3 linked regions of the Homo sapiens genome follow. The protein of the gene in region 1 interacts with the protein of each later gene in a pairwise test. Each region holds a gene or a part of one and is shown on either strand. Other genes may lie near its edges. The genes, in order: EMP1, MS4A7 and ANKS6.

The links.
Region 2: the proteins of EMP1 (region 1) and MS4A7 interact in binary tests that used the Homo sapiens proteins (3 or more experiments, as listed by UniProt).
Region 3: the proteins of EMP1 (region 1) and ANKS6 interact in binary tests that used the Homo sapiens proteins (3 or more experiments, as listed by UniProt).

The regions. Positions count from the first base shown.
Region 1 is NC_000012.12:13,206,650-13,210,401, forward strand, and holds part of EMP1 (epithelial membrane protein 1), read left to right. Parts: intron 1-3,752.
Region 2 is NC_000011.10:60,376,772-60,380,523, forward strand, and holds the start of MS4A7 (membrane-spanning 4-domains subfamily A member 7), read left to right. Parts: upstream 1-1,760; 5' UTR 1,761-1,893; intron 1,894-3,752. UniProt on the Homo sapiens protein: May be involved in signal transduction as a component of a multimeric receptor complex.
Region 3 is NC_000009.12:98,733,825-98,737,576, forward strand, and holds part of ANKS6 (ankyrin repeat and SAM domain-containing protein 6), read right to left. Parts: intron 2,800-3,752; coding exon 2,695-2,799; 3' UTR 1-2,694.

The sequences.
Region 1 (3,752 bases):
AACACACAGACTTCTGGACAGGAAGAAGTTATCTGACTCCTAGGTTAGCAATCAGGGAACCAAATTATGCACCTCTAAACTTCCCTTCTGGTCCTTAGAAGTCAATTCTTCTCAAAGTCTCTGCAGATTTAGTTACCCACCAGAAAAGGAAAGGCTCCCATGGGGGCCTGAGTAATTTCTCACTGGTCAGAGAACCCTAAAAGTGTTAGGCTGCCTGAACAAAGGCAACAAGGCAATGCATGGCAGTCTCAGGGCTGTGTTCCTTTGATTCTTTCATTTGTGTGTGTGTGTGTGTGTGTGTGTGTGTGTGTGTGGTGTGTAAGAGGGAGGCAAGAAGCCAATAAAGATTTAAATGGATGGAGATAACTTGAGAGGTTTGGTTATCCCTCTTTCCCTTCCCTCATGTCTCATATTAGTTAGTCCTTTAGAGCTATAGTCACGAGCAATTTTAATCCTCAGGGTTCTATTTTATTTTATTTTGAGACGGAGTCTTGCTCTGTTGCCCAGGCTGGAGTGCAATGGAGCGATCTTGGCTTTTTGCAACCTCCGCCTCCCTGGTTCAAGTGATTCTCCTGCCTCAGCCTCCCCAGTAGCTGGGACTACAGGTGTGCACCACCACGCCCGGCTAATTTCTTGTATTTTTAATTGATACTAGGTTTCACCACGTTAGCCAGGATGATCTCGAACTCCCTCAGGGTTATTTCTACTGACTATATTAGCTATTCTGTTAGCTAAGAACTTTATCTGAATACTGAATGGTCAGTGTTTGTGAGGTTTGCATTAGAGCTAGGAGCACAAAGACACCTCTGCTCTAGTGTGGTCTGGGCAATGCAGAAAGAAAAGGAGGAACAGTGATCAGAAACAAAAGATGGTGGTCAGAGGTAGGGAACTGCAAGCCTGTCCGTTAGGGCAGAAAGAAGAACAGAAAAGGGATATCAGAGACCTGTGTGTGGCTCCGAGGTGCTGATCTCCATTTCTCTTAATAATACTTCTCTCCAGAGTCAACATACATGGGTCCTATACCTTCCTCAGTTTCCCACCCAGCCCCTAACTGCCCCTGTGCCATGTATGTTAGGTAGATGAGGCTTAAGAAGGAGATCATCCTCCACTCACAGTGGTGGGTACAGAAATGTGTTCCTGGCATCCACATAGAAGTCAGTGGACGGCCTGTTCTTTAAAAATGCAATGAATTGATAAGCTCTGCTGGCCTAGGTCTGGGAGTCTAAGCACCACAAATGAACGCTGTTATGAGCGTTCCCCTACAACTTTGGAACTGCTCAGTGCACCAAATGCTCTGCAAAAAGCGGGTCTTGCTTCAAAGTATTCAGAATTGCAATGCTGTGATTCTCTGCATCTTGGTTTGCGCTGCCTCACTAGGACTAGGGGTATGCTTTCCACTGGAGAGTGCCACCCATATCATTTTAGAGAGGGCTGAGGGAGAAGTCTACTATTGTTTTAGTGAAACACACTGCTAAGAAATAAGTAGTAGCCACCAATACTTCCAATGGTATAAATTCTCATAAATGGTATTTTTTTCAGTGCCTTTGTATGAAGCAAGATTCACAATGGGGCAGAGAATGAATCTCCCCACAAGCTACCTTGCAAGTAATGGGTGGGTGGAAGTTTCAGGAGCAGGGGTTCTTCTGTTTATTATACTCTGCTATTTGATAAATGCCCAGACATTTACCCATTAGTTACCACTAATGGCTTTTTCATAAAGACCTCAGTGATCGCCTCCTCCCAGACTGAGGGTTTCCCTGGGGGCAGGAGGTATCTAGCACAGTGTAAAGACTGGGTAACTAGGGATGATTCAGCCCAGAAACTCAAGAAGATAACTCATTCTGTTTTCACCTGTGTTGGGGGGAAGGCCATTGAAAATAATGGAAGCCCCTCTAAACTGACAGTGAATGATATTAGTAAAACCTGACAAATAATGGGCCAGTGAAAAGATGGAGAAGTTGTAGCTTAAGCTAAACAGCCCCTCCTTCTGGCTGGATACAGCAGCTAAAAACAGAGAGAACTGTGTGTTTTGCACAAGACCGCTTGCTAACTCAAGACATTTTGCTTCTTTCCGTGGTGAAAAGACAGGGAGGGCACCATCACAAAAATCTAAGATGAAAGAGAGTCGCTCTTTTGCTTGATTCTCACATCCATTCTTCCAGCCTGCAATGGGCAGGGCATATGGTCAGGTGGATCCAGGGGCCAGGCACTCGCACACACCACCAGGGCTGTGATGCATGGGCCCAGGTAGAGGTGCCGTGGGAGGGGTCATTGAGACAGAGAGTGTGAGCTGGGCAGAGGAAATCAGACTTGACTTTAGGGGTTACAGAGCAACCCAAGGAGACAAAATGCTGCTGAATTCCCAACAGCCTATCAGGGAGGGAATGTTTTCTGTGACTCATTTAAGTGGCCTCACTTGGTGGATTATATTCTGTCATTGGCCCCTCCAGCCCTTCCCCCTTTTAAGAAGAGGATGTTTGTAAATTAGAAGCAACAGGAACAAGAAAGTCATTTGAAGAGCCCGAGGAGGATTAAACATAAGTATTCGTTATGTAATATTTGTAATTCCCTGCAATCAGCCTGTTCCTTTCCCCATAGGGGGCAAGGAGATCAGGATCTGGTGAGGTGTGAATCTTGGGAGGTATGAGGAAGTTGGGCTGAGAAAGTGAACTTTCTCCTGGTCTTTCCTGAGGGTGTGCTCTTAGAGGTCTCCCCCCTTAAGGGGCAAGGGTTAGACAAATGACAATTTCTAAGAGGACCGAAAGGATTGTATACACCCTGCCTCGTGAACTAGACAGCAGATATCTTATTACTTGCACTTAACATGGGGCAGCCTAGCGATTGAGTAACTGGGTTGGGTTGGCAACAGCTACCCGGCTTCACTTATGAATAATAGTAATAATAATAACCGCAGCTAAAGCAACCCCATTATTAGTAGCTGCCATGTGTCAGACACTAGGTGTTTTACATAAACAATCTGAATTCATCCTCACATTTCCCTTTGCAATTGACATTGCGACTTCCACTTTCTAAATGAGGAAACAGATGAGCGGTCAAATAACTGGATATGATTCTAATTCATCCTCTGTCTGATTCAAAAATCTCTTTTTACTGTGCATTTAAGTCAAGCAGAAAATTGGGGAGGTGTGCTAGAACCTGAGAAAAGCAAAAATGAATTTGAATGTGTGGGGGGATTACTAATAGCAGACATGAAAGCTCCAACCTCTCCCCTGAAGAGGCAGGATAAACGTCATAATTTTTGCATTCACAGTTAAGTTGGACACATTCCTAAAAAACAGCCTGGGTTGGAAGGAAGTGGCCAGATTGGGAAGGGGCTGTTGGAGACGGTCAGGGAGAATGGTGGAAGCCATTGTCTGCCTCTCATTCCTTGCTTGCAGAGAGCAAGGCACCCTGATGTATATTAGATCACTCTAGATTTTTGGTTGCCTGATAAAGACAGTGAGAGGAGATAAAAGGCATGTGAAGTGTTGGAATTATAGTATCAGTGCTCTCTAATAAATACCTGATGTGGCATGAAAGTGCCTCAAGCACATTCAAAGCATCAATTAAATTAGGTGGAGTGAGAGAGGGCAGTGGAACAATTGCAGGATGCGCCTGGCCATCTCCTCCCTTGGTTGGGGCATCCACACATCCATTCTGTCTAGGGTGTGAATAACCTCAAGCCCTTTCCTTTTGATGTCCCTCTGAGCCTGCACTGCTTTGTGACAGTCTTAGGCATGACAAAGCTCTCC
Region 2 (3,752 bases), on another chromosome or scaffold:
CACCAGGACTGTTTGCAAAGGGCTGAGGAGATTTCCATCAATGGAAAAGAGCATGAATTTAGAGTAAACATAGATTACACTTAGAGATCAGAGATCAATCTAGAGATAAAATACACTTTTCTCTAAAGGGGGTGGGAGAAGATGTTGGACAAGAAATACCAGATTTTCTTAATGGTTCATTTATGTCAGGCTCTATGGTGGGGACTTTTATGTTATTTGACTTAATCCTCACAACAATTCTGAAAAATCTTTTTTCAAATTTTATGAGAAAGTGAACTGGATATTTAACTGATTTTCTCACGAATTCCTTCTGAGGCTCAGAAGTGTGAAAGAAGCCCAAATGACCAAGGTTCTTTAACAATTTGGTCAAAACAGGTCATAGACCCAGAGGAAGGTCTGGATCCTGGAAGTTTTCTTAAGCAAAGACAGTGCTTGTTGTGGATATGAAGATGTTGACTAAGCTGGGCACAGTGGCTCACACCTGTAATCCCAGCTTTGGGAGGCCAAGGCAGGTGGATCACCTGAGATCAGGAGTTCGAGACCAGCCTGACCAACATGGTGAAATCCTGTCTCTAGTAAAAATACAAAAATTAGACAGGCATGGTGGTGGGCACCCATAGTCCCAGCTACTGGGGAGGCTGAGGCAGGAGAATCACTTGAACCTGGGAGGTGGAGGTTACAGTGAGCTGAGACTGCACCATTGCACTCCAGCCTGAGCAACAAGAGCAAAAAACTCCATCTCAAAAAAAAAAAAAGATGTTGACCAAATGGCAGACTCTTGCCATGAAGCAAGCCCAGACCTCAGTGCCAAGAGATGTGAATTAGATTCCTGCCTCTTCCACAGACTAGACATGTGACTGGGGGCAGATTCCTTCAGCAATATCACCTCATTTGGAGAAGAACTGGACTAAAATACCCTCCAAGTAGTTTATGAGTTATTTAAATCTCCCAGGCTTAGGTTTGCTCCTCTCTTAGGGGATAGCCTTGCCACCCTTCAGGAAATGGAGACTGTATATGGAGCATGTTGTGCCGCCAGCTGCTGCATGTCCCAGAGCCATCTTAAACCCTACCCTTCTGAACAATGGCTAGTCTACAAGAAGCCTTAAAAGGGATGTGAAAGTGGCAACAGTGTCCCCTCAACAACAAATACTTCCCCAAATATGAGCTTGTGTGGAGCCTGATGACTCTGCCTCTGAGGCCAATCCACTGGCATCTTTCCCAAGATGTGCCTGGACTTCCCTGAGCATGAGGCCAAAGATGGAGAATGGAAACACCCAAAAGAAGTAACAAGGAGACACGGAATTTTCCACAGGTTGCTTTCAGCTTACCAAGAGCCTGGAAAGTGAGAGAATAGATTCTCCAAAATTCAAAACTAACATTACTATTATCAATATTTATTGTCTACTTTTTGTAAACTCTTTGCATCTTTTTTCTTTAATTCTCCCAACACCCACAGAGTGGAATTATTATTATCCATCCACCATTTATTTAATAGACAAGAAAACTCAGGCTAAGCAAAACTAGATGACTTAAATAATTCTATGTAGGAGTAGGGAAAATGAATTTTAACTGGGACCGTACAAATCACTAGTCTGCACAAAGGTCTTTTTCTCATGTGTCACTTCTATCTTGTGTCATTTTGCCAGACCTCAGAATTTAGAAAGAGGAAGCAGAGGCACTTTTTATATATCAACTGTCTGTAACTACAGCAAAATTCACATCCTGTGTAATCATAAATACTGCTCTAAGAAAGGGACAGGAAGTCTCAGAGGCTGGAGAGCAGAGCACCAAGATCGTTCTGGCAGGAACAGCCAGTGGGAGGTTCCAGCTGAGCGCTCCCCAGAGGTGAGCTGATCCCCAGCCACAGCACACAGGACCAGGCTGCGAGAACAGGTAGACACCTTGGTTTAGATCATGACTTTTGGGGAAGATTGTGTGCTTTTGAAAAGACAGCCAGGGAATTGGATTATCATCCTGTCTCTGATTCTGACCACCTGTGTGAGTTGGAGCGTCAGCTCAGTCCCCTTTTTGGGTCTCAGTTTACTCACTTGTCAAATAAGAAAATTGGGTAAAACCATTCTTAGGTTTCCCTCATTGAGGTGATTTTCCTCAATGTTCTGCATTCTCCTGGTGTGTCACTCAGTCTTACAGAGTCTACTCTCAACAAATACTGTGCAATTAGACTGAATCTTGCATTAGAACCCCATGGTCCTACTCTAATTCTGTAATACAGAAAATTGCTGGGCAGAGCTGTTGACCTCCATGTCATGATTTATCTTCAAAGCACGGATTTTAGAGCTGTCTTGAAAGCTGTGGGTCCCTCCAGTCTATCTCCTCAAGGCGAATGTGGAAGGACAAAGCATCCTCTCAGACTGTGGTGTTTGGAGATGATAGCATCAGTCTGGAGACTTTTGTGAAACATAAAGAATCTTGGTTATATAGGATTCCTTCTAAAAGTAGCAACGTGTATCTAAATTCAAGTGTCATAGATTTAAATGTAATAATTCCACTTCCATACATCACTGTGAGATAATTAAATGCAGGAGGTATCACAAAAGTGCAAAGATGTTCATTATTGCATTGTTCATAGTGGCAAAAAGAAAAAATAGAAACCACCTAAATAGTCATGAACATGTGATTGATTAAATGAATCTAGAGACCTCCATTTATTTAAATATACCATTTGGCTTTTTGGTTGTAGTAAAATATGCTTAAAATAATTGTAGCCTTTTAACCATGTGTTTTTTTGTTGTTTTTTGTTTGTTTGTTTGTTTGTTTTTTAATTGAGAAAGAGTTTTGCTCAGTCACCCAGGCTAGAGTGCGTGATCTCGGCTTACTGCAACCACTGTCTTCCAGGTTCAAGCGATTCTCCCATCTCAGCCTCCTGAGTAGCTGGGATTACAGGCACTCACCATCATGCCTGGCTAATTTTTGTATTTTTTTAGTAGAGACGGGGTTTCACCATGTTGGCCACGCTGGTCTTGAATTCCTGACCTCAGGTGATCTGCCCGCCTCGGCCTCCCAAAGTGCTAGGATTACAGGCATGAGCCGCTGCACCCAGCCTTAACCATTTTTAGGTGTACAGTTCAGTGGCATTAAGCACATTCACACCATTGTGCAACCATCACCACCACCCAACTCCAGAACTTTCTTGTCTTCCCAAACTGGAACTCCGTGCCCATTAAACAATAGCTTTCCATTCCCCTCTCCCGCCAGCCCCTGGCAACCACCATTCTACTTTCAGTGAATTTGACTCTTCTAGGTGCCTCACATAAGTAGAATCATACAATATTTGTCCTTTTGTGACTGGATTATTTCACTTGCCATATTGTCTTCAAGGTTCATCCATGTTGTGCCATGTATCAGAATCTATCATTTGCTTTTAAATTTAGGCTTTTTATTATTTCTATTCATCGGTCAAAGATGTCTACAGAATAATGTTGAGTACAAAAAGAACAGTTATAAAATGGCATGGATAGAATGACTATTTCCGTAGAATTGTGAATGTCTGTGAACATATATAAAGAGGAGAGAGATAAAGTGACAGATGGGAAGAGAGAATGTAAAGAATATGTGCATAGGAAACAAGAGTGATCGGGTGGCAGTTGAAAGTTAAGGAGCTAATTTGTTTTCTTCTTCAAACTGTATTCCCTTGTAATGGTGGTACTTTATGCACTCTTTCAAACAGAACAAACAGTTAAGAAATAACAAAGGAAAATAAATGTTCATGGTATCAGATAGGCTATAGCCTG
Region 3 (3,752 bases), on another chromosome or scaffold:
CACCCTACGTTTCTTTATGAAAAACCTATTATCCTGTGGAACTAGGGTTCCCAGGAGCATACTTTTGGGAAATGCTGGTGAAGGTTGCCAAGCAAGGGAGGTGCTTCTTGTGGGGGGAACAGCCACAGGCAGGCTGGGGACACGTGTGGGAAGGGAAGGGGGTGATCAAGGACCAAAAATCAGAAAAACAAGCACCCAACTGACCCCTCCTCCCTGACGATCTATAACCTACATGTTCCGTGCTGCCTCCACACATGCCCCCGCTGGGGTGCCCTTTCTCTTCCCTGCCTACCAGCCGCATCCAAACATCCCCAGAAAGGGTGCCAGGGACCTCTTGTGAACCAGCACACAAACTTCCTAGGATGAAAAGCCTTGGACACTTGAGTCCAGTGAAAAAGAAAGGAAAGGCATTGTCTGGAGCCTCTGCTGTCCTGTCTGCAAAATGGGAATAGCCCCGCTCTGTCCAGGGTCATCCAATGAGTTCATGGAGGTCTACATTTGTGAAAAGGTGACCCCCCGGTGCAGCTGTGTATCATTGTTCAATCAAACTTACCTGAGTGGAAGCTATACCAGTATATTGTTATGAAAAAAACAGGACCACAGCAAAAAGCAGGCACAAAACCTCAAAGCACATAACGTCAGGGGCCATGAATTTCAGAGGCAAACAATTCTAGGCCTACTGTTAACCCCTGAAGCCATCAGTAAATTAAAACAAGAATCACAAGTGCTTCTAGCTCCAGGAGTCTATAGGAGTTAGTGGAAAAGGCACAGGCTTGCAAGCCCACCAGGTCCGGTTCTGACCCCAGATCTGCTCCTTCTGGGCTGTTTAACTGGCAAGCTGCTTCCCTCTCCTAAGCATCCGTTTCCCGAATGTGCAAGATGAGGTTACACAATGCCACCTCCAGGGTGGCCATGAGGATGAAATGACAAAGGTAAAGCTGCCAGCACATAGTAGGGGATGAATGAGTGTGTCTCCTTAAAAAGGCTGGGACATTAGTAACCTTTGTAAAGGTGTCTATCAGTAACAGCTAAATGAAACACTTTGTCTTCAGTCCTGTGGAAAGTTGGCTTCTGTGAGTGTAAGGCTGAGAGAATTTAAAGGAAAAACACCCAACCATCAGGGCAGGGGAAGAAAACTACGAGGCTCTGGGCAGTAAGTTAACGACAGCCTCTGAAAGCCAGCATAGGGGAATGGGCTTTCATGGCTGGGGGAGGGACAGATGAGAGATGGCACCTCCCAAGGAGACCAACTTGTGGCTCAGCATGGCTCAAGGTAGAGATCAGAATTCTGTGCAGCCTACCATCGACTGGGTACTTCCTGCAGACCCAGCACTTTGGGCATACTGGTTCTAAGCTCCAACTAAGAGGCCATTGAGCTTCATCTGAACTTTGAACCTGAGTCCAGAGCACAAGGTCTGCCCACTCTACCATGCTGCCTCTCAATGTCGGGACCATCTATTTACAGGTGTTCTCTTGCCTGTCGAGAGCCTGAAGGCTCTGTATTGTGTCTGCACACTTGGCACCTGGTAGCTAACATAAATGCAACAAGCACTGGCTGAATGAGTCATTCACTGGAAAACACTTCAGAAAGCCAGTGGGTTTTAAAAGTCAGGGCCCCTCTAATTTAATAAAATATGATATGGTAGGAAACTACACAAGCCAATTCCCTTTTGAGGAACACAGCATTAATAGGATGTAGACAAAATTCCAAATTTTCACTTCTTTGCCTAGAAACTTTGAGCACCAGAGACCTTTACACAATGTGACCCATTAGCCTTCTGCTTCCACTTTCAGTGCAGAAAGCCCTGCAGTGATACAGGTGAGCACTGTGGAGTACCAGAGCATCATCTGGTCTGACCTTCCACTTTGCAGATAAGGAAACTGAAAGCTAGGAAGAAGAAGGGATCCACACAGCAGGCCTCCACTTCTTTCCTTCTATAATAGACTCTCTTTGCAATAAAGAAAAATGCGTTTGACATACACATCTCCAATGTAAGCTGTATGCAGCAGGTGCAGTGGAATGCTACAGCAGTCACATACACAGCACTAAGGGACCCAGTGGCTGAAAGGGGGTCAAAAAAGACTTCATCTGAGAGGTGACTTGGACTAGGAGGGGCAAGTTAGAAGTTTTAAGGGAAGATGTGCCAGGAAGGCTAACCTCTCACCATAATACATACCCCCCATCTAAGTCAAAAGTTGTTGCTGGGAAGCCACTATGTGGAGACTGCACATCCTGGCCTCCTCTGCATCCAGGTGGGGCCACATGACTACCAGTGGCCAAGAGGACGTGAGCAGGAGTGATGTGTGTCAGTTAAGAGCAAGGCAGGTAAGAAGCAGCCGTGCCTTCTCCATCGTCCCTTTCCCTTGCCGCCAGCCAGAAGCAAACTCTGAGGCTCCCGGGGAGGGCAGAGCACAGGATGAAAGGAGCTGAGTCCCTGCATCACTGTGTGAACCAACCTGCCAAGCAGAAGCACCCCCACTGGACTGTTACATGGGAATCTGTCTCTGTGTGTTGAAGTTTGTTGCAGCAAGAAGTACTACCAATGAATGCCGTCGACGTGAAGTGGGCATCCCGAGCAAAGGGAACAACATGACTAAGGCACAGCAGTGTGACGGGGGCAGGGCTGGGGCTGTGGCCACGTGAAGGGGTCCCGGGATTCAGAGAGCTCACGCTGGTGGCTGCGGGAAGGAGGATCACGCACAGGGGCTGTTGCCAGGGGCCCTGGTGTTGCTGGCACTGCTCTCAAAGGAAGAGTGAAAGTTGTGAATGGTTTCCTGTAAAATTTGTCTCTCGCGTCCCTGTGGAGGAAATTGAAAACAGACACAGAAAGTCTTATTAAACCTTTTAACCATTAATTCAATTGACACAGTGTTGTTAATGTTCAACTCATACTTCAAAAACCCATGGGCGTCTTGGGGAAAATAAATTACCTAACTGAAAGAGTACCGAGTTCAATAAAAACATACTGAGTCAGAATCTCCCCAGTACCCACCATCGCAGCCTGTCAATGCTGGAGAGGCCCTGGGATGCAGGACCCCAAACCCCTGGACAGAGTGGGAGGCCGAGTCCGGGGCAGGACTGACTTCTCCCGAGTCGCACGGCCCGGATTCGAGGTCTCCTTTCCTGCGCCTCTGTGCATCTTTCCAGTCCTTAGATTTCCAGATAATTCAATGGGAGCCAAGTGTCCTTCTGCTACAGGATAAGAGTTTAAACTGCCTTTGCTTCCCTTTGCCCAAAAGCTGCCGGATTTGTCTTCACAGAGATTCACTTCTCACTCTATTCCTACAACGCCCCCTGCCCCCTATACACACATTTTCAGATGAGAAAAGAGGGTGGATGTGAATGTTCTGTTAAGCCCAGAAAACATCATCACTGCATTCCAGGCTCGGAGGCAGCAATACTCAGAGGTTAAGAACAGAGACTGCGTCCTAGCCAGAGCAATCAGACAGGAAGTCAAACTGTCGCTGTTTGCTGATGACATGATCGTTTACCTAGAAAACCCTAAAGACAGCTCCAGAAAGCTCCTAGAACTGATAAAAGAATTCAGCAAAGTTTCTGGATACAAGATTAACGTACACAAATCAGTAGCTCTTCTATACAACAACAGTGACCAAGCTGAGAATCGAATCAAGAACTCAACCACTTCTATAATAGCTGCAAAAAAATAAAAAAAAAAAATACTTAGGAATATACCTAACCAAGGAGGTGAAAGACCTCTACAAGGAAAACTAGAAAACACTGCTGAAATAAA